Homo sapiens: one gene and its partners. The protein of the gene in region 2 purifies or fractionates together with the protein of the main gene of each other region. This does not show direct contact. Each region holds a gene or a part of one and is shown on either strand. Other genes may lie near its edges.

Evidence for each region.
Region 1: the proteins of KIF2B (region 2) and ANKRD52 purify together in Homo sapiens (affinity purification with mass spectrometry; one large-scale study listed by BioGRID and IntAct). This does not show direct contact.
Region 3: the proteins of KIF2B (region 2) and VPS8 purify together in Homo sapiens (affinity purification with mass spectrometry; 2 studies listed by BioGRID and IntAct, with this or other methods). This does not show direct contact.
Region 4: the proteins of KIF2B (region 2) and CEP170 purify together in Homo sapiens (affinity purification with mass spectrometry; 2 studies listed by BioGRID and IntAct, with this or other methods). This does not show direct contact.
Region 5: the proteins of KIF2B (region 2) and C4orf46 purify together in Homo sapiens (affinity purification with mass spectrometry; one large-scale study listed by BioGRID and IntAct). This does not show direct contact.
Region 6: the proteins of KIF2B (region 2) and WDR62 purify together in Homo sapiens (affinity purification with mass spectrometry; 2 studies listed by BioGRID and IntAct, with this or other methods). This does not show direct contact.
Region 7: the proteins of KIF2B (region 2) and TMEM164 purify together in Homo sapiens (affinity purification with mass spectrometry; 2 studies listed by BioGRID and IntAct, with this or other methods). This does not show direct contact.

Annotation. Positions count from the first base shown.
Region 1 is NC_000012.12:56,237,307-56,241,384, reverse strand, and holds the end of ANKRD52 (serine/threonine-protein phosphatase 6 regulatory ankyrin repeat subunit C), read left to right. Parts: 3' UTR 1-3,578; downstream 3,579-4,078. Other genes in the region: SLC39A5 (zinc transporter ZIP5 precursor), read right to left, coding at 3,654-3,797, 4,045-4,078. UniProt on the Homo sapiens protein: Putative regulatory subunit of protein phosphatase 6 (PP6) that may be involved in the recognition of phosphoprotein substrates.
Region 2 is NC_000017.11:53,821,475-53,825,693, forward strand, and holds KIF2B (kinesin-like protein KIF2B), read left to right. Parts: upstream 1-1,452; 5' UTR 1,453-1,559; coding exon 1,560-3,581; 3' UTR 3,582-3,719; downstream 3,720-4,219.
Region 3 is NC_000003.12:184,850,166-184,853,665, forward strand, and holds part of VPS8 (vacuolar protein sorting-associated protein 8 homolog), read left to right. Parts: intron 1-2,334; coding exon 2,335-2,402; intron 2,403-3,500. UniProt on the Homo sapiens protein: Plays a role in vesicle-mediated protein trafficking of the endocytic membrane transport pathway.
Region 4 is NC_000001.11:243,161,282-243,164,781, reverse strand, and holds part of CEP170 (centrosomal protein of 170 kDa), read left to right. Parts: coding exon 1-498; intron 499-3,500.
Region 5 is NC_000004.12:158,669,088-158,673,373, reverse strand, and holds the start of C4orf46 (renal cancer differentiation gene 1 protein), read left to right. Parts: upstream 1-1,486; 5' UTR 1,487-1,572; coding exon 1,573-1,758; intron 1,759-3,605; coding exon 3,606-3,761; 3' UTR 3,762-4,286. Other genes in the region: ETFDH (electron transfer flavoprotein-ubiquinone oxidoreductase, mitochondrial isoform 1 precursor), read right to left, coding at 884-917.
Region 6 is NC_000019.10:36,085,897-36,089,396, forward strand, and holds part of WDR62 (WD repeat-containing protein 62), read left to right. Parts: intron 1-790; coding exon 791-916; intron 917-3,141; coding exon 3,142-3,209; intron 3,210-3,288; coding exon 3,289-3,410; intron 3,411-3,500. UniProt on the Homo sapiens protein: Required for cerebral cortical development. Plays a role in neuronal proliferation and migration.
Region 7 is NC_000023.11:110,006,114-110,009,613, forward strand, and holds part of TMEM164 (transmembrane protein 164), read left to right. Parts: intron 1-3,500.

The DNA of each region.
Region 1 (4,078 bases), on a different chromosome or scaffold from region 2:
CGGATACCTTTAACCATACCTCATGCTGGTTTCCAGAAGCCTGGGGTGTTGTCCAAGTCCTTATCTTTTCATGGTCCCTTTTGATCCCCTGTCTCTCTGTGTTTTGCTTCTCCCAACCCTCAGTTCCTAAATCATTTCAAGGCTTCCAAATGACCATTATTGATGAGAAGGATTGTGCAGCTTTTAGTTTTTATTTTTATTTTCAAAGCCAAAGGGCCTTGTGACGCCCCTCTTGCCCACCTCCCTCCACACCGTGTCCTCCCCTATATGACAATCAATGTGACCTCTCTTAAGGGCTGCAGCCCCCATCCCCAACCCTGCTGGCTCTGCAAAGCTTGCCTTCCCTTCAATTCTCTCTCCTGAAATCTTCCCATTCCACCCCCTCCCTCTCATCTTGGTGCTGGGAATTAGGTGGTGGGGGGCAAGGGGAGTGAGAAGATGGGTCCTCCAGAGAGAACTTGCCGGGTGTGAGTCGTGTTCTCCTTTCGTGATGTTTGGTGATGGCGGGAAGCGTCTGAGTGTCAGAGCCCCGTTGTCTTGCTAGATGAGATTTCTGGGGGCTGTCTGCGCCCTGCTGCCCTCAGCGCACTGTCAGCAGTGCTGGGAGGTGGTGGGGAGTCCTCTGTCCCTCCATATGTGGCTGTGAGGAAGCCTGGGGGACAAGCAGCCTCCTCTCCTTATGCCAAAGGAAACCCCACGCCCCACCCTGGGCTCCCCAGCCCTAGTGTTTTTTGAAGCATTTTGACCATTCTCATGGCCACTGCATATTTATTTTAATGTTAAGATTTTTTTTAAACCTCTTTGACTTAAACGGGTGTGGAGAAGTAAAACAGGCAGAATGCCCCCCAGTCTTCATGGGGGAGGGCGGGGAGGGAACAGCGCCTTCCCTTTGCCCTCCCCCTCCCCCCTCTCCCCACCGCAGCCCTAAAGCACTTGCTTCAAGTAATAAGCACTTTTGTGAAAAGGCCTATTTTAAGCGAGGACCCTGGGAGCAGCCCCAGGTCCCAGCAAAGGAAACAGAGCGAGGGCGACATAGGAGACAGGGAAACAGACGTGTGAATCAGAGGGTGAGATGGAAAGAGCCAGTTTTTAGTTTCTGATTTTGGGGGAGCTATTTCTGATTGGGCGGTGGCTCTGGTAGGGTCATATACTATCCTTCAGAAAAACGAATGGCACAAACCGTGGGTCCCAGGAAGGACCAGCAGACCCGGGTCACTGCCACTGTCCACTGAGACTGACGGGCCACCTCCCCTGCCCCGTGGCCCCCTGAGCCATAGGACTGCTGAAAACCACTGAATGTACAGCCCAGGTTGGGGTGGGGAGCAGCCCCTGGGGGAGGGGGCTTCTCCTTTTGTTTGGTGCTGTGGGGCGTGGGAGAGAAAAGACTGAGGGACTGCCACCCCACGTAGATGTGTTTCTTGGGGTGGAGGGGCTGAGGAGGGCCTACCTCCCTCTCCAACCCCAGCCATGGCCCCTCTTCCTTCCTCACCCCTATCCGTTTTGACTGTAAGTCCAGCTCACCTTTGCCTTCAATATGTAACCAAAGGAAAACTCAATACTGTTTCCACCACTGTCTGCCCACCCGAGCACCTTCTTACTCCCTGGACCTAGAAGGGGAGAAGAGGCTGGAGGTGGGGTGGATGGGGCCAGAGTGAACGGTTCTACAGCTGTATCCCCAGAACCTCCTCCAGGGTCTTGGAAGGAGTCCTGAGAGGTGGGATTGGGGCCGGGCTGGCAGGGCTGAGTTTGCGCACTGTGTATCTTATGCACATGAGTGTTTTTGTCTAAATGACTCCAGTGACTGCTCCAGCGGGGAGGCCCCTTCCTCCTTCCCTCTCAGCCATTTCTCACCCACTTCCCATACCCAGTGTTCATCCCCTACCTCCCCTTCCCACCGCAAAGGAAAATAGCCTTACAGACCCTAGCCCAGAAACCCTACTCCTGGGGCAAACCAGTATGGGCCCCCATCCCGCCTAGTTTGAACCCTACCTTTTAAGAAGGAGGGATAAGGAACAAAGCAGCCCCTTCCCCTCTAATTGTGGTGGCTCCAGCCTTCTGCAGCCTTGACCCAGGTTGGGCAAGGGCGGAGGTGAGGAATCTTTGAGGACCAAGCCCAGTGGTCTGGGAATCGGGAGGTAGAGAGGGAAGGGTCTGCCTTGGGGGCTCCCTCCTCCCAACCCAACCCCTAGAGAAGCGACCAAATCCCAGAGATGGGGTGAAGCTGGGGTGGGGAGGGTCTGCTCTTTGAATTACTTGAAGGTACTGACTCCAAGGCTGCTGTTGCCCACTTAGGTGTGAGGGGGACACTGTCACTGCATTTGGGAGGGCAGAGGGTGGCGGGTAACCAGAGGATCCACCTTGGCCCTCACCCACTCCTGCTAGGCCCTTTCCCTGGGGAATCTGGAAGCCTGACTTTGCCCCCAGGGAAGTTGGGGACCGCCTTCCCTCCCTTCTCCACCTCTCACTCTGGGCACCCTCTCCAATTGCACTAAAGTAGCTGTTGTGCCAGTCTGCCCCCCACAAGGGGGGAGGTCTCTGCTTCCAGTCTTCTTCCCCCGCTGCCTCCGCTCCCACCCTGGACAATCTCCTTGTTTCCCTTGTGTTCCTGGATAGCTCAGCTTTGTATGTGTGTTTGGGGGGTGGGGGTGGGTTCTGGCTTGAGTGGGTTTGGCAGGGGTTTGGGAAGGGTTAGGGGAGGATGGAGGATGAAGTCTCCTACCCCCTTCTCCAGCTCCAGGCCACAGAAGCCTGGGAAGGGAGGGTGCCTACTCTCGCTGCTGTGTGTCTTGCAGATGTGCCAAAATGGGGGTGGGTGGGAGGGGAGGGTGCCTGGCAGAGCAGCCCCTGGGGTGGCTCTCTCAAAGCAATATAGTTCCCCTGCGGGGGACAGCAAGACAGGGGAGAGGGTTGGGGTGGGGACCTGGGGGTTCCCCATGTACAGCTATGTATATTCAGGGGTGTTCTCCGTCTGGTACCCGCTGTGGGCATCTATGTGTGTGTGAACCTCCCCTTCCCCATGCCCTGCATGACCTGTGATGCTGCAGACACCACCATCCTGTGTGCAGGTGTGTGTTGGGGGGCACGGAGGGGCATGTTCCATGTCCTGTTGCACCCTCCACCCTGTGACCCATGTACTCGGTTGTAGGAAGTAAAGAGAACTGAGCACAATTCACTGGATTCTAGTGGAATCTTTCTCTAAGCAATTTTCCCATTCCTGCCTCTCCCTGCCCCGGAACCACCTGTGGTGCTAGTGTTGGGATCGGGGGCGTTTAACGCTGGTGGGCAGCAATAAGGGGCAGATGTGCCCAGATGCCTGCATCCCCAGGGTGCCGAGGGCAGCAGGAAAAAGTGGGGACCTCGGTGCATTTGCCCCACCCCTCCCCTCCCTGGGCTAAAGCACAATGTTCTCCCCGCAGATTAATGACCCTGCACCCTCCAGGCCCCTACTCACATCCTCCCCCAACCGGCTTCGGGTCCTCCCACCACACTCTGGTTTTCTATGCTGTTTTGGTGCAAGTACAACTGTCGTAGTCATGGCTTTGGGATGGGTTCTGTTTATTAAAATCCTATTGCTCCTACTGGCCCTGTGTCCCGCCTCCATTCCTGTGGTTGGGGGGAAGGAAGGGCAACCCGACCCCTTTCCACTGGCCCCATCAGCCCTCAGTGGTCACGGGCAGTAGCCGCTCCTCCAGCAGGGTTATGGCAAGCATGAGGCCGCCCCCCAGCAGCAGCCCCAGCCCCTGCAGGAGCACATGGGGCGTAGGCAGGGGCTCCGGAGGACGAAGCAGGGCTGGTAGCTGAAAGAAAAAGAGGATGTCAGGATTCTGGCCTTGCCCCTGACCTCTCAACTCCAGAGGAATGGTGTCAGAAAGCATCAGCAGCCCCCACCCAAACACCTTAGTCCCTTGTTTCTCAGACTTTTGCGGGCCTATGGTCTGACGCCCTTCCAGGAGCTAATGGTAGAGGCGGAGGGACTGCTACCTCCCTCTCCACTCCCGCCTCCCCACTGCCCTTGATTTCTCTGCTCTACCCGACATCTCTCACCATGTCCACAAGGGCCACATAGAGGAAGACCCCA
Region 2 (4,219 bases):
GACAGAGTGCTAATGACAAATACAGTGTATTAAGAATATCTACATCATGGCCTTGAAACCAAGAAAGAACAACTGATTTAAAGCACAACTTTAAGTATTGATAATTTGGGGAAATAAAACATGATATTTTTTAGAAGACAATTGCCTAAAGCCCTTTCTCCTCTCCCTCCACCTGCATACAACCTCCTCTTGAAATGAGCACTGCTTACTTATCTAATTTATCCAGTATCCTCCTTCCACCTTCTTTTCAAAATCTAAGCTTTACTAGACTGACTGAACAGAAAAGTTAGTTTATAGTAGAATTTATTTCTATAGAGGCCCTTATTCCTAGGGAAGGTTGTAACTTGCTACTTCATGTTACTTTGGAGCTATAATTATGATAAAATTCAACAGTCCAAAAGACAACATGCACGGGTGTTGCTAGTGAGCTGAACGTAAGGCATCACCCTTACTCTGAGCTTGGCCTGTCTAAAAGTCAATGTCATTTATTTTATAAGCTAATTCTTATGCATGAAAATATTGCAATCTTGGCAAAATATATTTTTGCATCCGATGGTCTTAGCTGCCTTCCAGCCTTGCTTAACAACTTCTAAAGGACACACACAAGTACTGCAGGGGTGGGGGGAGTATAAGATTAATTATCTCTTTCCACACAATGCCTTTTCTTTCTCTCCCAATTATGGATAATGAGGCCAGAAGTGTAATTACTGAAGGAGTTTGGAAAGGTAATTACTGAACTAATCTCAAAAATGGTGGTGACCACAGCACAACAAAACTCACTTTATAGCTGTCAGAGCCACTTGGAATGTGATACACATGTTGTGTTTGCAAACCCAGGTGCTGTACGAAAGGTAGTTTCATATTAGCAAATTACCACAACGACCTGCTACATTCTACTCATTTTGATTTTGTAATGAGAAAGCCGATTAAACTGTAATAACTTTAAGTTGTGACTCTTAAACAAGTTACACGTTTTGAAGGAGGTGAAAAAACAAAGATGGCGGGTTTGAGGAGCCTTTCTGGGATCCTGTTGAATATCGAGTCCTGAGATTTGCAAATAGCTCTACCTTCATCTATTCCCACTGATCACTGGAGAGTTAAAGTTTAAGGAAACTTCATAGCAATTCTCAAATTAAAGCACTGAGCTTTGAGACTGCCAGCCAAGGCCTCCTTTTATGCTTAGGCATAAATGTACACGGGACATATAAATTAAATTTCAACGCCATGGTTCCCGTTGCTTCTCTGTTACCTGTTCTTTCTCGCCATGATCCGGAGAGCACGCCACATCCTCCTCCAACCCCTTCACCCTCACTGGCAGAGAACAATCTCTCCATCCCTTTGTGCTCCCGTACCATTCACTCCTAAGCCCTAGGTTCTGCCGCCTCATCTCATCCCTTTGTGACGTAGTGGCCCCAGTCCGGGCCCCGGCGCGCTAGGCTCACAAAGGCAGGCACAGACTGCAACCCTGCTCAGTGCTCCGGGCGCTTCAGGCTGGCTTGGGTCCTGCTGCTCCAACCCCAAGGGCCCTGGAGCGCTCCCTGATACCTCCATCACTCACCATGGCCAGCCAGTTCTGCCTCCCTGAATCCCCATGTCTCTCGCCCCTGAAACCCTTGAAGCCACATTTCGGAGACATCCAAGAGGGCATCTACGTGGCGATCCAGCGCAGTGACAAGCGGATCCACCTCGCTGTGGTCACGGAGATCAACAGAGAAAACTATTGGGTCACGGTAGAGTGGGTGGAGAAAGCAGTCAAAAAAGGCAAGAAGATTGACCTGGAGACCATACTCCTGCTGAATCCAGCTCTGGACTCTGCTGAACACCCCATGCCGCCCCCGCCCTTATCCCCCTTGGCTCTGGCGCCCTCTTCGGCCATCAGGGACCAGCGTACCGCCACGAAATGGGTTGCGATGATCCCCCAGAAAAACCAAACAGCCTCAGGGGACAGCCTGGATGTGAGGGTCCCCAGCAAACCTTGTCTGATGAAGCAGAAAAAGTCTCCCTGCCTCTGGGAAATCCAGAAACTGCAGGAGCAGCGGGAAAAGCGCAGGCGGCTGCAGCAGGAGATCCGAGCTAGACGCGCCCTCGATGTCAATACCAGAAACCCCAACTACGAAATCATGCACATGATCGAAGAGTATCGCAGGCACCTGGACAGCAGCAAGATCTCAGTCCTGGAGCCCCCGCAAGAACATCGCATCTGCGTCTGCGTGAGGAAGCGGCCTCTCAACCAGCGAGAGACAACCTTAAAGGACCTGGATATCATCACCGTCCCCTCGGACAATGTGGTTATGGTGCATGAGTCCAAGCAAAAGGTGGACCTCACTCGCTACCTGCAGAACCAGACCTTCTGCTTCGACCATGCCTTCGATGACAAAGCCTCCAACGAGTTGGTGTACCAGTTCACCGCCCAGCCACTGGTGGAGTCCATCTTCCGCAAGGGCATGGCCACCTGCTTTGCCTATGGGCAGACGGGAAGTGGGAAGACGTACACCATGGGTGGAGACTTTTCAGGAACGGCCCAAGATTGTTCTAAGGGCATTTATGCTCTGGTGGCACAGGATGTCTTTCTCCTGCTCAGAAACTCCACATATGAGAAGCTGGACCTCAAAGTCTATGGGACATTTTTTGAGATTTATGGGGGCAAGGTGTATGATTTGTTGAACTGGAAGAAGAAGCTGCAAGTCCTTGAGGATGGCAATCAGCAAATCCAAGTGGTCGGGCTGCAGGAGAAAGAGGTGTGTTGTGTGGAGGAAGTGCTGAACCTGGTGGAAATAGGGAATAGCTGTCGGACTTCCAGGCAAACACCTGTCAACGCTCACTCATCCAGGAGCCATGCAGTGTTCCAGATCATCCTGAAGTCAGGACGGATAATGCATGGCAAGTTTTCCCTCGTTGATTTAGCTGGGAATGAAAGAGGAGCAGATACAACCAAGGCCAGCCGGAAAAGGCAGCTGGAAGGGGCAGAGATTAACAAGAGTCTTCTAGCCCTCAAAGAATGTATTCTGGCTTTGGGTCAGAACAAGCCTCACACCCCATTCAGAGCCAGCAAACTCACACTGGTGCTCCGGGACTCCTTTATAGGCCAGAACTCCTCCACTTGCATGATTGCTACCATCTCTCCGGGGATGACCTCTTGTGAAAACACTCTCAACACTTTAAGATATGCAAACAGAGTAAAAAAATTAAATGTAGATGTAAGGCCCTACCATCGTGGCCACTATCCGATTGGACATGAGGCACCAAGGATGTTAAAAAGTCACATCGGAAATTCAGAAATGTCCCTTCAGAGGGATGAATTTATTAAAATACCTTATGTACAGAGTGAGGAGCAGAAAGAGATTGAAGAGGTTGAAACATTACCCACTCTGTTAGGGAAGGATACCACAATTTCAGGGAAGGGATCTAGCCAATGGCTGGAAAACATCCAGGAGAGAGCTGGTGGAGTACACCATGATATTGATTTTTGCATTGCCCGGTCTTTGTCCATTTTGGAGCAGAAAATTGATGCTCTGACCGAGATCCAAAAGAAACTGAAATTATTACTAGCTGACCTCCACGTGAAGAGCAAGGTAGAGTGAAGCCAATGGCGAGAGATCAGGTCCGAAATGCTGCATTGCTGCAGTTTCCACCACTCTTATACAGGAAAACTGTCCAAATTATCTAAAGATCCTCCTGAGAAGCTTAAAACATCTTAAAATACACTGATGGGAAACATGCTCTTTCTTCTGCCTCTGTATTTCTGTAGTTTGTTTTCATCCTGCTGAACTATAGTTTTCAACAGGGAATGGTTCCTCCCCACCCCCTACCAGGACATTTGGCGATGTCTGGAAACATTTTTGATTGTCACAACTGGGGGTGATGAGGATACTGGCATACAGTAGTTTGAGGACCAGAAATGCTGCTAAGCATTCTAAAGTGTACAGCAGCAGTCCCCAACCTTTTTGACACCACAGACCGGTTTTGTGGAAGGGAGTTGTTCCGTGGGTGGGGTTGGGGATGAAACTGTTCCACTTCAGATCATCAGGCATTAGTCTCCTAAGGAGCATGCAACAACCTATATCCCTCACATGCACAGTTCACAATAGGGTTCATGCTCCTGTAAGAATCTAATGCTCCTGCTGATCTGACAAGAGGGGGAGCTCAGGCGGTAATGCCCGCTCACTGCCAGCTTGCCTTCTGTTGTGTAGTGTGATTCCCAAAAGACCACAGACCTACC
Region 3 (3,500 bases), on a different chromosome or scaffold from region 2:
AACATTGAGCTGTCTTTTATTTGACTAGCCCAACATGATGTTTTTCCAGGTTAAAACTAGAGATGGGCTAGTATGGAAATACTCAGCTTCAAGTTGTATTGAAGTCTAATTGATACAGCGGCAAAAAGGGCAAATTGGTGTGTTGCTAGACTAGAGTTTGGCCATAAAGATGGGCAGCACCCTGCTGAAACTCATATGGAGCTCTTAAAAGGTCTTTTTACCTTTGTTTAGGTCATCAAAATTTTATTGCTGAGGTGGTGTGCTCTGTCACCCTTTTTTGGGAGTTGCCTGAGGTTCAAGGCACAGATCGTGAAAAAACCAAGGTTTGGATTATGTTTAGAAATGAATCTATTGGTTTATTTTCTTTCAGGCCTCTAAAGGGAAAGCATTAAGATCCTAGTCTTGGCTTTCTCCTTATAGGCCTGAAAAAATAAACTGACTTAGGTAACAGATTTCATTTATAAATACAATGTGAATGTTGATTCTTCCACGCTGTCAAGCCCATGTTCAGAAGCATAAAAGGTAAAGGATTATAACTAGAGAAGTCTAAAATCAGATCTTCTAGATTTTAATCATCTACACATTTTGTTGCTTAGCTCTGCAGAGCTCTGTCATCCGTAAGTATGCTTTTTAAAGTCTGCAAGCATCTGGAGTTTGTATGTCTGTATCTAAGTTAGTTACAAAAAAGTCTTCTGTGACAGAGCAGCGTTGAAGCATTTAGTAACAATAAAAACAACCAAGACAAGTAAAAGTGGAGAGAATTTCTTCTCTTTCAGAGCATTATGGCAAAGTATCTTGACCTCTTTTCATATGGCTTGTGCCAACTTCTAATATGTTATAGTTGTTTGTATATATGTCTTATCTCTCTTAGTGGATGAATGTCTTTGAAATCACAATCTGTTTGTCATTTATTTTTGTGTTTTACCCATAGTAGCTGCTCAATAAATATTTGATTGAAGGAAAAACTAGATGGTGGTGTTTATACAAGAGAAATCCTTTTGCAGAAAAAAAAATACTGGGAGAAAGAATAAGAAACAGAAGAGATAAAAGCAGAGAGAAAAGAGAAGAATGCAGTTGAGATAAATAACATATAGTAGGAGCCATTGTGTTGCTTGACAATGGTGATGAAGGTGGTACATGTAGATAATAACACTGGAGTAAGACACATAGGATTGAATATTTCTGAAGTCTTCTACTGACATCAGCCACTTGCATTTTAATACTCCTACACGTTGTTCTCCAAACTTAAGCCTGTATCTCATCAATAACAATTTGGAATTTCATTCTTTATGGATATTTATGTGTGTGTGTGTGTGTGCGTTTATATGAATACACTACTTTACTAATTTTTATGTACATTATAAAGCACGTACAAAAGAAATAGAAAATTAAACAGAAATACAAGTTCTGTTATTTTTCCTGCACTCCAGCGGACCATGTCATGCACACACCTAGGGTATATGCTTCCCACTCTGGCAACTGCTCATCGAGGCTGTAAGAGCAAAGTTGTGGGGCTTCTTAACTATGCGTGTGTTTGGGTCAAGGAAGAAGAATTTTACAGTGGCCTCCAGTACCTCAGCCATCCCTGACTGGGAACCTGAGGCGTGCTATTTAGGATGGTTCACTAACCTTTGAGTTTAGGGAGGATAGTCACTGTAAATGGTACAAGTTCAGTTTATTCCATTTTGTGTCATGCAGCATTGACCATACTTCAGGTCACCTTAGGACTGTCTGTCATTGTGAACATGACTTATTATTCTGAGTTTTCTAAGTTAGGTAGTGATAACTGAAGTATATGCTGTGGAAGAAGATCAAGGAGGTAGCACGTTTTGGGAAGAGTTACATATGAAAAGTTAAAATGTTTTAGATATAGTGGACTTACTTTTCAGCTATTCAGAAGACATATTCAGATAAGTTTATTTCTCAAAGATACCAAGTATTTTTTAGAGTCTTTATTCTTTAAAACTGGGCAGGTGTAAATGTAACCAAAGGATCTCATTTACTTAGTAATAGCAAGTTACAAAAAGTTATTGTAAGAACCCAAATAGAGAACTTTAGGGTTTTTAATCAATCATAGTTTGTATTTTTCTTTTATCGTGATGAAAGGTGGTTTTGCTTTTTGAAAGCCTCTGTTTTTTTAAAGATATTGGACCATTATTACTCTAAATAAAGGTAAGTTTGTAAGTTTAGAGTGATGAGCACTGAATCTAGTTTAGGTTATTTCAAAAGCTATTAAATGTGTATATTGTAGTTTTTCAAAATTGTATAATTTTTTCCTCCTTAATACTTGACTGTTTAAAAATGTACAAGAAAATAAATTCCTTCTCTGTTTAGTTTACAGATGATCCAACTCTTGCAATTTGCAACGACAGCGGAGGCTCTGTTTTTGAATTGACATTTAAGTAAGAGACTAGTGGACATTTGTTGACAAATGAAAAGACTAGCTCTGTTTTAATGATTTGAAATTGAACATGAAGAGGACTAGAAAGCCCCTGTAATTGAGAGTAGATTATGACTGTGTATTACAATTACCTGGGAAGGCTTATATTAATAGAACAAACAGAGTTCTGGGCCTGGTCCTCCCGAGTTTTATCTCAGTAGGTCTGAGTTGAGATTCTAGACTCCTACTCCCCAGAAGATTCTTATATGCTGTCAAGCTTGGGACCACTCTTCTGGAATAGCTCACTAATTTTGGTTTAGGCTCAAGGCCCAGTTGATTTTAATCATAATGGGCAGGTGTAAACAGGTTTTTAATTATCTTAGAATTGCCATGTTTGCTCTTTAAGAGCAAAGACTGTCTAGATACATCAAAGAACATTTAGGAAGCAGAGTTTTTTGAAAAGTAGAACATAATATTCATTGAATATTATGTCTCCATAAGTTCTTCAAGGTTAACAACTATCTTTGTTTCTTGTGTTTCTCATAGCTTCTAACAATGCTAAGTACAAAGTAATTTCTGAAAAAAACATACTTCTTATTCAGTTAATGTTTATTGAGCATCTCCTATGTGTAGGTATTTATCTAGATCCCAGAGTTATAGCTGTGAACCAAGCAAAGTTTCTGCTCTAAGAGAACTTACATTCTAGCTGCAGTAAGGGTAAGGAAACAGCAAACCAGCACGTAAATGAAATCACCTCAGATGGATGTAAGTGCTGTGAAGAAAACAAGACAGGGGATTGCACTAGGTTGTACTTGAGGATAATTCTGGAATGCCTTTCTCAGAAGGGGCAACATCTGGAAAAATAACTGAATGGTGAGCCAGTCAACAAATGCACAGATCTGAGGAAAATATTCCAGGCAGAGACCATTCAGACACAAAGACTTTGAGGTGGCCACAAACTTGGCATGCTAGAGCAATGGAAGAAAGCAGGTGTGGCTGGAGTGTGACTTTGTCAGGAACACAATAATGGGAGAGGAGTGAAGGGAGAGCCAGATCATATCCTTTTAAGACATGGGAAAGAGTTTGGATTTTATTTTTTATGTACAGTAGCAAGCCAGTG
Region 4 (3,500 bases), on a different chromosome or scaffold from region 2:
CTGATGAGCATGTACATTCCAAACTGGAAGGAAGTAAAGTAACGAAATCTAAGACTTCTCCGGTGGTATCTGGTTCATCTAGTAAATCAACCACCCTTCCAAGGCCACGACCTACCAGGACTTCCCTCTTGCGCAGAGCACGACTTGGTGAAGCTTCAGACAGTGAACTTGCTGATGCTGACAAAGCATCTGTTGCTTCTGAAGTATCCACAACAAGTTCTACATCAAAACCTCCCACAGGAAGGCGTAACATCTCTCGGATTGATTTATTGGCTCAGCCTCGTAGAACACGACTTGGCTCACTGTCAGCTCGTAGTGACTCTGAAGCAACAATTTCTAGAAGTAGTGCCTCTTCGAGGACCGCAGAAGCCATCATTAGAAGTGGAGCCAGACTAGTACCATCAGATAAATTTTCTCCTAGAATTAGAGCTAACAGTATCTCTCGACTCTCAGACTCCAAGGTCAAAAGTATGACCTCAGCTCATGGCTCTGCTTCAGGTAAATTGGATCCAGATTTCTAATAGCATTAGCATGTTGTATATTTGGGGGCTCCTTTTTTTTTTTAAAAAAAAAAGTAAGGTTCTAGTTGTCTTCCCAAGATACTCATTCAAAACAAAAGTTATGATATACGGGGCAGCGGCGGTGGGGGGTCTATAAAACAGTTTTATTTAGCATAGTAAATGGAAAATCAGAAGTTATACATACTTCCAATTAGAGTCCTGGCGCAAAATAGTGATTTCAAAACTAGGAATTCATTGAGCTGATTTAGGAGTTTTAATTTTCCAGTTGGTGCTATATTTGGATGTGTGTGTCAAAATTAAATTATCTGGAAGTATCTGGTTTAAAGTATAGGAATTAACATTGTGCTTCTAAAAGCATGTGTTTAACCTTTAAATATCCTCACATAATTCAAAGCCCTTAAGAACTTGAAGAAAAGCAGTATATGCTTTATTACTCCTTTCAGAGTTAAATGAAATAATCAATGTTTTCTTTTTTTTCCCTACCCATTTTGAAATGTCTCACATACTTTACCTATACTTTTTAAAGTTAAATCTGTTTATAGTTGGAGCAGGTGAAAACTAACCTTAATTTATTTCAGTGGAAGAAGATGGATTCATGGGGAATCACTCAGCGTATATTGGCCAAACTGGGCTGTAGAAATTTAACTGGTTATGAGCATTATCTCACAAAGTGCTGTTATATCATTTAACTCTAGTAATTAGGTGTAATTGAATATAATAACTACAAAAACTACTTACTTTCCACCAGAATTTAACTGATGCTGTTATATTTGTTTGCTTATGTGCTTTGTATTCAGAGCTGAGGCCATTGAGATACATGTGTGACCAAAGAGTAATGAGGTGGATATTTGTTTGTGTCCTATATGCATGTTCTCATTACTTCATAATGAGCCTCATATGTGGACGTGGCTGCAAAGGCCAGTGTGGGAGGCCAGCTGTTACAACGGACATGAAGATGTGTGATTATTTTCAGTAGGCAGACATCTAAGTAAGCCCTAAGTCTTGAGTTAAGAGTGGAGGGGAAGTTGATATGAAATTTCATCTTTTTATTTTTGATTGGTTTACATCTACCACACCATCTCCTACAAGACCCTAAAGGAACAGTACTTTGCATATGATACTTTTTTCACTTTTCTTCCTCTTTTCACTGCTGCTTTCCTCCACTCCATTCACCTGTATCTCTTTGCTGGTCAGTGGGTTTGGTAATGATGGTCACTGTCTATGGTAGAAATGGACGTAGGGTGAAGCCAGATAGCATATAATCATGATTCCAAAAAAAATAGACAACATTTTCCTTATTACCCCAGTCCTCATTTCCACACTTGAAGCTTTGGTTGGTGGTTCACAAATTTATTGCCAAATATTTTAAAACTAACTACTACATTTTGGTTTATTTTCATTCTGTTTTTGGTTATGGCTCTACTTCAATTCACATTTCATCTGTGCTGCATTTCCTGATGAAATTTCTTCTGCTGTACTCCTTGTTTTATCACCTCATCTCCATTAAGATATGTATGTATTTTCCTGTCTTAACATAATTTCTATGTTACCAGATAGCTTGGAGTACCTCTTAACACATGATGTGGTTTTATTCCTCGATATTTAGGATAAGGCTTGAGATGCAAGCTAAATATGATTACTTCAGCAAGTCTAAGAAACAACTGTAAGATGCTATATATAAAGACAGATTTCATTTTCTGCTTCTTTGAATACAGAACTTGATAAATACTCAGTTTTCTGTGTCCAAAAATAACCTTGAATTGTGTATGAAATTCCCTAGGACACATTGATGTATATGATTTTAGTCTTTTCATACTTACTAGCAGTATATTAAATAATTAGAATCATGGAATTTAAAAGTTAGAAGGGTTATTCTCTTAAGGGAACCAAGGCCAAGAGAGGAAATAACCTGCCCTGGGCACATGGCAGTGGCAGGGGCAGAATAAGAATCAAAGACTTTTAATCCCCAGCCTGTTTTTCTACCGTATCTATTCTAGCTCTAAGAAATAGTTTCAGTGTTTACTTGTATGCAAGCTTCCAGAAGACAGCTAGAATCTACTGGATTATTATCAGGAGTATATGCAAGGTCAATATACAATATAAAGGTTTTGGTATTGTTTACTAAAATCTTTGCAGTTCTGATGTTTTACCCAGTTTATATTCTCTATTCCACCTTATGAGTGTAAAGCCATATTGTAATCTAGGATTGTATATTCAGATTCTCTCAAGATACCCACTTATAGTATTAGACCTTATCTAGGACAGTGGCCAGGATCTTTCCTTCAGTGAGAACATACTATAATAGCTGTATGGAAAAGGTGGTCAAACAAACAAACCTACCTGTTTGATTTTGCTAATTTGGTGCCTTTGATATTATAACATTTCTTTTTAAGATAATTATAATATTTTGAATGGAAAAAGAAAAGCAAAATTTTAACTTTTGAAACATGATTTAAAAGAATGTTAAATCATGCCGATCAGTGTTGCTGTGCACAGTATAAACTTTAAAGACCTTGGAAATAATCTGAACCTAGCACTTGTGATATTGTCCCAATTGGATATGTAAAAATAATTCCATAATGTTTCCAATTCCATATTTTAGATGATGTCTCTAAAATATTTTTAGGCCAGCACAGTGTTTCATGCCTGTAATCCCAGTATTTTAGGGGAGGCCAAAGTTAGAGGATTACTTGAGCCCAGGAGTTCAAGGCTGCAGTGAGCTGTGATCACACTACTGCATTCCAGCCTTGGACAAGTGAGACCCTGTCTCCATTAAAAAAAAGTTTTTTTTAAAGAAATGTATGTGATAAAAATAGAAGATTGGAAATCTCAGATTTAGCAATATGAAGAGAAGAGTTCTGTATGTTTCTCTGATGTAATTTGCAATTTGCTTCTAGGAGTTTAACTAGTTTTTTTTTCCCCAAAACATTCTTTCAGTGCTTCTTTTTTTTTTTTTTGAGACGGACTCTTGCTCTTGTT
Region 5 (4,286 bases), on a different chromosome or scaffold from region 2:
TGTCACGATGGTTCACAGAATACCCATAACACGATAAAGCCCTTAGAGTTAATTTAATTTAATTTTTTTTTGAGACGGAGTCTGGCTCTTTCACCTAGGCTGGAGTGCAGTGGTGCGATCTCAGCTCACTGCAACCTCCACCTCCGGGTTCAAGTGATTCTCCTACCTAAGCCTCCTGAGTAGCTGGGATTACAGGAGTGGGCCACAACGCCCAGCTAATTTTTGTATTTTTAGTAGAGATGGGGTTTCACAATGTTGGCCAGGCTGGTCTTGAACTCCTGACCTCAGGTGATCCATCCGCCTCAGCCTCCCAGAGTGCTGGGATTACAGGCTTGAGCCACCACGCCCAGCCCTTAATTTTAGACAACGCAGAAAAACTGGCTCCAGATACACTTGGGTGACTTGGTCAACATATGAATGTTAACCATGATGTGACAGATCAGACTTCAATTTCTTTAGACTGAACTAGAATGGCTCCGAAGACGAAAGTCAGGTCAGGACCAGGGAGAAAAACTGGGCAAATACGATTTTTTTTTTTCCATTTCCAACAGAGGTTTGAAGATTAGAACCAGGATTTGGGAAGCCTCAGTTCAGGAGTCCACCGAGGTGTGTGTGTGTTGACAGGTGGTGGTGATGCCGAGGGCGTGTTGACAAGTTTTCCCCGCCCTTGACCTTTAGCCTAGATATTAATTCTACCAACTGGGGCAACCCCAGAGGGAGGAAGCCAGGGTCCCCCAACAGGCTGACAGCGCGTGACCTTTGCCCTAGATAGCCTGAGAAAGCTGATGAGAGAAGGGGCGAGAGGTGCCTACAGCCCCCAGGACCGGCCTTGTCCCTTTTGCCCTAACTCCTCCACTTATCCCCACCGCCCGTTTCCTCTCACCCAGGCAGGACAGCTTGGCTAGCGGCACCAGCATGTTCAAAGTCACCAGGACTCTCGGTCGGACACAACAGGAGGACTGTCCGCTGCTCGCGGCGGGCGCTGGACCTCTAGGCCGCGGGGGGCGCCATCACCTGCCGGAAAGCAAGAACTCTGCTGCAGTTCGCCTCCCCGCTCTGCCGACCGCTCTTGCTTCACGGCGTTCCCACCTCCTTCTCGCTCTGCGCCGGCGCCATGGATGACGCAACGGCCAGCCGAGGCTTCCGGGTCATGTACCAAACCAGGGAAAGATAAGGGACTCCAAGTCCCAGCCGGGGAGCGGTGAAACAGCCACAGCGCGGCCAGAGGGGTCCGCGAATCCCACAGCACGACGCACGCGCAGTGAAAGGCAGTAGAAGGCGGGGCGACGCACACGGCTTCCTGGGAGGTGTAGTTTTCTCTACGAGTGCCCTTCGAGATCGATTGGAGGCTCGCGCAGGAGCCGTGAGTTGCCTAAGGTGAATTGACTCATATGATTGGCTGTCCCGAAAAATGAAACGTCTTTGTGGTCCGGGGCTGAGACCCACGAGGAGACTGGGCGGGATTTCTGGCGTTAGGAGGCGGGGCCTTTCGGCTTTGGGCGCGAGTGGTTAAAAGACAGTTGGTGTCGGTTCGGCTTCTCGGGTCGGATTCCGCGGTCCCAACCCTTCCCCATGGCCGACCCTGAGGAGTTGCAGGTTTCTTCGCCGCCCCCGCCGCCTCCCTCTTCTCCCTCCTCTTCAGACGCCTCTGCAGCATCTTCCCCGGGCGGCCCAGTGAGTTTGGGCTGGCCAGTTCCGAGCAGGAGCAGCGGCCCAACGGTGGACCAGCTGGAGGAAGTGGAGCTGCAGATCGGAGACGTGAGTGTGGTGTCGGGACCGCGTCCCCCCTCGGCGCCTCTGGGAAGACCGGCGGCGGCGGGGCTCGCGAGGCTAGGGAATCGGTCCCCCAACCCCCATGACCCGGGACGACCGGCCCTTCTGCGCCCCAGAGCGTGCGGGCGGGAAGCGGGGGGGATGCCAGCAGCTAAAGTGCCACCCCTCTCTGAGGGTTCCCCCTTTAGATTTAGTGGTGAGGAGTCTTAAGGGGTTTTCCTTCCACCCGCCCCACCCCTCACTGGTTTCTTTTTGTCTCGCCTTCTGGTTTCAATCATCCGCAGTAACCCGAAGCCACGCAGCTCTGCGCTGCCTGTTGCTGGCTCTCTGCCTCCTCCTTTCCCATCGGAGAATAGTTTTCATTGCATGGGTTTCGGAGAATAGTTTTCACTGCATGAGTTTGCTGGCTTTCTGTGGGTACTTGAGATCAGGCTGTGATTTCTTTCCATGGGACTTAGAGCCTGCTGTTCTAGTTGGCCACCTGCCCAGGGACAGCTGATAATGCCATTGTCTGCCCCAGGCCTGCTTAGCGCTGGACCCAGCTTGAAGGGTTTAGGTCACGTGGATTGGCTTCTTTGACGGTTTAGTTCAGGACTCCTCCCTTTGTATGATTGCTAGAATGCATACTTAGGATAGTTTCTGTTAAATCTCGAATCCCCAGAAACTAGCACCCCACCTCCCAACCGTAACTCACACACCACTGGAGGGGAGAAGACAGGGAAGGGGAGTTTTATGTTCTCTTGAGTGGGTCAAGTGGAATGAGGTATGTAGAGTGTAACCTGGGAGAGTTCTGTGGCCTGACCTTTCCTGCAGATTGGAAACTAGGGGATGAACTAGATTATCTCATTGCTCCGCAAGTATTTTTTTTTAAGGATGACTAGAGTGCTTAACCAGCTTTTATTTTTGCAGAACAAACTGATTGCAAGTAAATATGTAGAATGAAGTGCTAATGTGTTATTGAGGAACACTGTTTTATTTTATATCATTGGTGAAGAAAACGTTTGGCTGAAAAGTGAATTTTCCACCAGGAGCTGAGTGTTTTCTGCATTTGTGTGTGATTTTTTAATGTTATTTGTCAGAGCTCAGAGTTTCTGTTCTTTGATCTATACATTTTCATTGTTTAAAGTGTTCACAGGTCAATGCCCATGTTACCCAAATAGCAGTAAGAATTATTTATGATGAAATCTCTCAGATATATCTGGCGCTTAGTGTCAAGGGGTCCAAGTCATCTTGTTGAGCTGAGACTCTAGTGTATTTTCATAGAAAACAGCAATCCTGGGCCAAGCACGGTGGCTCACGCCTGTAATCCCAGCACTTTGGGAGGCTGAGGCAGGCGGATCACCTGAGGTCAGGAGTTCGAGACCAGCGTGACCAACATGGAGAAACCCTGTTTCTACTAAAAATACAAAATTAGCTGTGCGTGGTGGCGCATGACTGTAATCCCAGCTACTAAGGAGGCTGAGGCAGGAGAATCACTTGAACCCGGGAGGCGGAGGTTGCAGTGAACCAAGATCGCGCCATTGCACTCCAGCCTGGGAAACGAGCGAAACTCCGTCTCAAAAAAAAAAAAAAAAAAAGAAAACAACTATACTGATTTGTCATATCTCAGACATAATGGATATTTTTCTAGCAGACCTGTTTCTTCAAAGTCTACTCAATATTAAAGAATTTCTTAGGTTCCGTGAAAGAGCCAGTGCTGTAGTTTGAAAACTGATTACTTTGAAAGAAAATAACATGGGCATTGGATTCAAAGCCTTAAGCTATTTTCAGCCTGCTTATAAAATGAGATGAGAATTTTAAAAATAAAATTATGTTTGACTTTTTTTTTTTAGGCAGCCTTTTCATTAACCAAACTTCTTGAAGCCACATCTGCAGTATCAGCTCAAGTGGAAGAACTTGCCTTCAAATGTACAGAAAATGCACGTTTCCTTAAAACGTGGCGGGACCTCTTGAAAGAAGGCTATGATTCTTTGAAACCTGATGACTGATTTGGCATACTTCGTTGTTTAATAATGACTGCAATAATTCATACTTCTTATGTCATATTTTGTACATGTACCACACATATAGGATGACCTCTGTCCAGCAGTTCTGTATATACTCAGAATGAAATTTTTCTTGGTTTTCTTGGTTTTTGTGAAAGCAGAATACCGATGCTATTTTTGTTGCGGACCAGTACTTGTTTGTCCTTAAATACTTTATGCCTCTGAACTTTCATAGAATCCTTTATGAAAGTTAACTTCATCAATAGACGGTTAATATTAATAGAGCCACAGTGCTACCAGTAGCAAACTAGGTAGACCATTATTTGTTTTGCAACAAGATGCTAAGCATGGCAGACTTTGAAGTTGCGTTTCATCTTAAGGACCAAGGGAGGTAACTTTAAGGTTGCCAGTGGTGGATCCAGCTCCGTTAGGCTAAGTTGTCTACAGCTAATGATTGTGTCTTTATTCTATATCCCCAGCACCTAAAACAGGGTCACACAACATTCACTAAATGTTTGTTGAATAAAA
Region 6 (3,500 bases), on a different chromosome or scaffold from region 2:
GGTCTCAAACTCCTGACGTCAGGTGATCCACCCGCCTTGGCCTCCCAAAATGCTGGGATTACAAGCGTGAACCACCATGCCCGGCTCCTCAAGATGTTTTCTAGGCTGGGCACGGTGGCTCATGCCTGTAATCCCAGCACTTTGGGAGTTACAGAGTTGGTGGAGTTATATCCTGATGTGATTTTCCCCATGTTCTTCTTTCGTTCTCTCATCCCCCATGCTGTGTGCCCCACCAACTTGTCTTGAAACATATCTTCACTCGGTTCGCCTCTCCTGATCTCCCCTCTGCCTCAGGTCATGTTATTAGGCCTCAGACATAGCAAGTGACCAGAGTAGGGAAGGCTGGTGGCAGATGGGAGTCTGGCCACAGGCAGTCAATAGGACCTGAACAAGGCCCAGGTAGCCAGACCTCAGAGGGTGAGAGGACACTGGTTTTGGAAGAGGCTGAGAGGTTGCCAGGGCTTTACCCAGCACAGACCCAGCAGGCAAGAGCGCTGGGCTCTGCTGGGGCGTCTGCTGTGGATGTCCCTGGAGGAGCGTCCATGCGCCCATCGAGACTCATCCTCCCTGAGCTGGTGGTGAGGAGGTGAAATGCCAGGGTGTGGGGGCTCTGGGAAAGACCACACAGAGCTAAGGGAGTGGCCCTTGCCAGGCTTGGGCCAAGTTGGCTACAGTTGAAGAACCAAAGACCCCTTCTCCGAGGACTGGGCAGCTTGGTCACACTGCCCTTCTGGGAGGCCAGGGCACCCACGCAGCCTTCAGGAACCAGTCTCATTCTCTCCTCTCACAGGGCTGACCTTGCTGGCCTCAGCCAGTCGGGACCGGCTGATCCATGTGCTGAACGTGGAGAAGAACTACAACCTGGAGCAGACGCTGGATGACCACTCCTCCTCCATCACCGCCATCAAGTTCGCTGGTGAGCCCCTTTCTTCCCGCTCCCTGCGCCTTGCTAGCTACCCTGCTAAAAAAGGATTCATTCTTTCAACTCTCCTGTAAAATATATATCCAAACAAGTGAATACAGTATCTGTGTACAGTATACAGAATAATGACTGGGGCCGGGTGTAATGGCTCACACCTGTAATCCCAACACTTTGGGAGGCCAAGGAGGGTGGATCACCTGAGGTCAGGAGTTCGGGACCTTCCTAGACAACATGGTGAAACCCCGTCTCTACTAAAAATACAAAAATTTGCTGGGCGGGGTGTTGTTTCTGTAATCCCAGCTACTCAGGAGGCCGAGGTGGGAGAATTGCTTGAACCTGGGAGGTGGAGGCTGCACTCCAGCCTAGGCAACAGAGTGAGACCCTGTCTCAAAAAAAAAAGAATAATGGCCAGGTACCATGGCTCACACCTGTAATCTCAGCACTTTGGGAGGCCAAGGCAGGTAGATCATGAGGTCAGGAGTTCGAGACCAGTCTGGCCAACATAGTGAAACCCCATCTCTACTAAAAATACAAAAAAATTAGCCAGGCATGGTGGTGTGCACCTGTAATCCCAGCTACTCGGGAGGCTGAGGCAGGAGAATTGTGTGAACCCGGGAGGCGGAGGTTGCAGTGAGCCAAGATTGCGCCAGTGACTCCACTCCAGCTTGGGTGACAATGCGAGACTTTGTCTCAAAAAAAAAAAAAAGAAGAATATAGGCCGGGCGTGGTGGCTCATGCTTGTCATCCCAGCACTTTGGGAGGCTGAGGCAGGCAGATCACCTGAAGCTAGGAGTTTAAGACCAGCCTGGCCAACATAGTGAAACCCCGTCTCTACTAAAAATTCAAAAAAAGTAACCGGGCATGGTGGTGCACACCTGTAATCCCAGCTACTTGGGAGGCTGAGGCAGGAGAATAGCTTGAATCCAGGAGGCCAAGGTTGCAGTGAGCCAAAATTGTTTCACTGCACTCCAGTCTGGGTAACAAGAGCAAAACTCCATCTCAAAAAAAATAAAAATAAAAAATAAGCTGGGCGTGGTGGCCGAAGTGAGTATCCACAGTTCTTAGGAGCAAGGTTTGAACTAGGACGTTGTTGATAGCAGAGACTGTTCTAATTGCTCATGGTCGTAATATTGTTAAATACGGTACTTGGATTCACCACGTGCAGGTTAAGAAGCAGAACATTACCAGAGGCTTGCAGGCCTTCTCTGGGTCCCTCCCAGGTTACCCTTCCTCCCTTATATGGGGCTCACTCCCTTCTGTGAGCCAATGACTCCTCCTTGAGCAACATCTAATACTTGTATGTCAGGCCTGGACCCTCTCAAATGTCCTGTCATGAAGGAGCATGTGTGATGTGCCCAGACTCAGAGTTTTATATTTGTTCTGTCATTTCATCCTCACCAAACTGTTATTCTGTAAAGAAATGAGACGGCCGGGGGCATCTCACGCCATTGCACTCCAGCCTGGGCAACAAGAGCGAAACTCTGTCTCAAAAAAAAAGAAATGAGAATAATAAAAGCAAGAATGTTTCTAATGCTTACCATGTGGCAGTCCCTGTTCCAAGGGCTTCACATCACTCTCCAGAGAAGGAACTGTCACCATGCCCATTGTACGGACCGGAAGTTGAGGCTCAAAGGGGAGGCCCAGGTTCAGAGCAGTGTTTAACAGCTTTGACCTTGGCACCAGAGAATGCCTGGGTTCAGTCCTGCCCCTGTCCTCTCTGTGTGCCTTGGGACAAGGACTCTGTGAACCTCTGTGTTCATGCTTGTCCAGTGGGATGGGTGGTGAGCATTCAGGAAGACCCGCTACATGCATGGGGCCTGGCCCAAGGCTCATGTGGATCTTGCAGTTGATCCTGATGGCACGAGCCTCCCAGCCTGTCTCCACTGGTCGCTGCTGCAGTCCTGCCTCTACTCCGCTACTCAAGTCACCTATCTCAATCCCAGACTGGAGAGGGTGTCCCTTCTTTGTCCCCAGCCTTTGTTTCTCTATATGCCCTTGCTCTGCAGAGCCTGCCTTGGCCACAGCTCCACCTGTGCCCCCTCACACGTACAGCTCATACCTTACAGAGTCCCACCCAGACCCAGCACCCACCTCACCACCTTTAGGAAGCCTTGATCCCAGCACAGTTGATTGATGGCTCTTGCAGTGGAGTTCCCCAGCTAGGGTCCCCTGCCCATGTGGCCCAGCCCTGCCTAACACACAGCGTCCTCCTCCCCTAGGCAACAGAGACATCCAGATGATCAGCTGTGGGGCTGACAAGAGCATCTACTTTCGCAGTGCCCAGCAGGTAGGGTGGCATGGCCTCCTTGGGGGCTGGGGTGGGGGGTTGTCGGGGCATTCTCTGAAGGTCCTGCCGGCCCTGCCAGGGTTCGGATGGACTACACTTTGTCCGTACCCACCACGTAGCAGAGAAAACCACCTTGTATGACATGGACATTGACATCACCCAGAAGTACGTGGCCGTGGCCTGCCAGGACCGCAATGTGAGGTAAGGGGTGGCCCTGGACCCTTAGCTGGCCTGGTCTGCCTTGTCCTAGGCTGTCTGCTTTCCTCCCTCTGTTCCTCTGGTCCCCAAGAA
Region 7 (3,500 bases), on a different chromosome or scaffold from region 2:
TGCCCTCCTAGCTCTTGACAGTCTATGTGATTCTTGTCTCCATAAGTCGTAGATGGGTATGCAACAGAGAGCTATTCTGAAATGCTTTTGACCTCCTGTGTGGAAAAAAAGGAAGCTAGTTTCTTCTCTGTGGAAGTCAGGTGGCCAGTTCCCATTCATTGTTTTCTCCCTGTGTCTTCCCAGTAAAGTAAACTCAACTGGGCCATGCTTGGGAACTCATGCAGAGGATGATGGCACTTTAGGACTCTGAAGCCTTAGGATGGGGGCATGGAACAGAGCCATGCCGAGGAGTTCTTGAGCTCCATCAGAATTATGCTTCTTTGCCCTTTTCCCCTAAATCACTGCTTTGTATCATTTAAATAGTAACCCCTGGCATACCAGGAGACCTAGCCTCTGATTAATCCAACTTTCTATACCCTCCATATGGCTTTTCCTGGGAAGCAGGAATGTATGGATTTTTAAAAGTTGATGAGTCCTAAAAAAAAAAAAATTAACAGCAGATGGTTGGAAATAATTTTCTGTCTTGGTTGCAGCAATGACCAATGATAGTATGTATACCCAGAATACCATAATACCTTGCATTTATCTAACAATTACTGTTTATAAGATACTTTCATATACATTGTTACTTTTAGCTTAGGCCTGGAGAAAGGGATGTTAAAATGTTTCCTGCAACAGTGTATATTCCAAAGAGGAGATACTATGTACAAAGAAATGTTTGGCAAGTGAACTAGCTGAATTAGGCTATGTTGTAGTGGCAAATTCTGTGGAATTTAGAAGTCCTAGCAAGGAAAGAGAGATATTAGCTGAAGTGAAAGGGATAGCTTAGCAGAGACATGTCTGATATGTGTCTCTCAACAGGATGACTCAGTTTTGGCTTTATAAAAAGGCCTTCTTCCTCAGAGAGTCAGTGTAAGTTTGTAACAAGGGAGGTATTGCTTTAGGCCAGGAAATAGATAAGTTGGAGGGAAATTGGTTAGTCTCCGCATCTCTCATTTTTCAGTCTGCAACATATTCATTCCCAAGGCCTTGTTACACAGGCTCTCATCATAGCCATGCTGCCTTTGAGTGACTGCCAACTGTAGTAGCATAAGGAAGGGCAGTACTTGTGTCCAAGTTCTGTTATTGATTAATATTCGTCCTGTCAGATTTCATTTTGGCCTTGTCTGATTTCTCAAACGTGTCCTGGGACTGTAGACTGATACAGGCATGTATGGTTGACCTAGCACTGTCTCACAGCTAAGCCTCCAGCCAGAGATATTTGAGTGTTCTCAAGATCAGCAAGCACCAAGGTTACCACATGGTTGCTAAACCCCTTGCTAAATATCACTGGTGTCTATCAATTATACCAATAAGTATTTCTTCAAGCATGGCCAGTCCCTTTTTGCTTATGATTTTGGCAGGTATGGGTGACAGGGAGTGAATTTATGGAGTGACTGTACTGTTTACCAAAAATCACCCAGTAAGTTAGTGGCACAGGTGGCTTTAGAACTGAGCTGCCACAGTGGGAATCTGGCTTAGCAGGAAGAGATTCTCATAGCTATTTAAGTCTTAAAAATCTACAGTTTCTCAGCAGAAGGGTTAAAATGCTAGATAGTTTGACTGATTGTTGTAAAGACTGGTGGTCTTAATTTAGTGGCCCTTTACCCTCCTTGAGTCCAGTTATATTTGTCTTAGAAACTTAAGAAAAAGATCCCATTTGGGATGTCTTGTTTAATTGTCCAATTCCTGTTGGTTCTGTATGTGTCTGTGCCAACATCTCCTGATTAGGCACAGAACTTAGTGGGGTGAAGCATATGCAGTTTAACCCTCCATGTCTATGCGCATAAGGCAGGCTGTATCCAGGCTGGATATTTGGCAAAGAATAATTGGTGCTGTTGACCCCTTAGTCCCAAGCTGTTGGTTTTTAGTGAGTAACACTGAATCCCATCCTTTTTTAGAGTTGCTGTAGCTATTTGATTTTTTGTCTTCTTTACAATATATTAGAAATCTAACTTCAACCAAATATGGCTTACCCGCTTTTGGTTCACTGTTTGATTTTCTTACTTCCTCTCTCCTTGCTAAAAGTGTAGAATGACACACACTCAGAAAGTCCTGAGCTTTTTGTGAAACCCCTTGCAACTCACTGAATACACACTGTTGCATTCCGGTTGTTATGTGATGAATTTGTTTTAGAGAAGACCTGATGGATTTGAGAAACTTGGCTTTCTGTTTTCCCCCTTGACTTCACACCAGACACACCTCCTCATTCTCCATCTGTTGTCTGGAGCACTGATTATCATTCCTGCTTGGAATTGAAGTTGGTGGGTAATGGGTACAATAAGGGATCCAGCCATCTGCTGACAGCTTATCAGATGGACTGCGTCCTGTGTCATCAGTCCAGGGGGATACAAGGGGATGATGTTTATATGGGCCTCACTAGTGAGGCATGACATTCCTTTTTAGTTTGTTTCTCCCCCCAAGGAAATTTGCAGAGAATTTTTCCATCTTTCATTGTTACAGTCATTGGGGGTGTCCATATAAAGAGAGGTGCTGTGGATTGGTGAATTAAACAACCCACAGGCAGCCCCAGGATTTAAAATTATGATGCTAGTTTTGCTCATGGCTTGCTACAGGAACCTCAGCAAACTATTTAACCTTTTCCTATCTCAGTCTTCTCTGTGAAACGGGCCACATGGAAATGAAGCATTTGAATTCTCTGAATAATTATGTGGTCACTTAAACAGAGAAGCTGGGCAAAGCTGGTCAAAGATGGCAGATGACCAATACAGTTTCAACTTCAGACTCAGAAACCGACAAAGCTCAACTCCTTATACCTTTCTTGATAGCTTCTAGAAGGCATTCCTCTAATCATTTTTGTTACTTTTCTCTGGATCCTTGCCTGTGTCTGGATACCTTTCTGATGCATGGCATATAAAACTGGACACTAACTCTTACCAGAGGTCCAGCCTACACCAAGCAGAGAGGAAGTATTTTTTTCCCAGTCTTTTCATGCCTTGCACCTGTTAATACAACTCAGCTTGCTTTTAAATAACAGTATGTTGCTGGCCCCTACTCAGTGGATGATCCACAAGCTCACAGAATTTTTATTCCTTTGCCACAGATGGGCCACCTTCTTCTCAGTCTTTGTGAGACTTGTTTTTAGTTTCCTCCCCCTCTGTAAATACTCCCCTGAAGATTCTCCTCTACGAAACCTTTCCATAGGAGCCTGACCTGACTCCAGTAACACTTTTTGTCCTTTCCCAGCCGTCTGAATACATGTCAGAATGTTGGGCTCTTTAATGAATACCTTTGTATGCATGTAGGTAATCTGGTGTTTGGCCAGATCATTTTTTTTTGTTTGTTTGTTTTTTGTTTTTTGTTTTTGCATGTTTCTTTAATGTTTCTCCACCATTAGTGGGAACACTTTTTTAAAGTAAAGGAGTAGTGGATTTTTCCTTTGTAACTCCTTGCAGAGCTGAATATAATACTGTATATGCACATTAATTGTTTAATGTGTA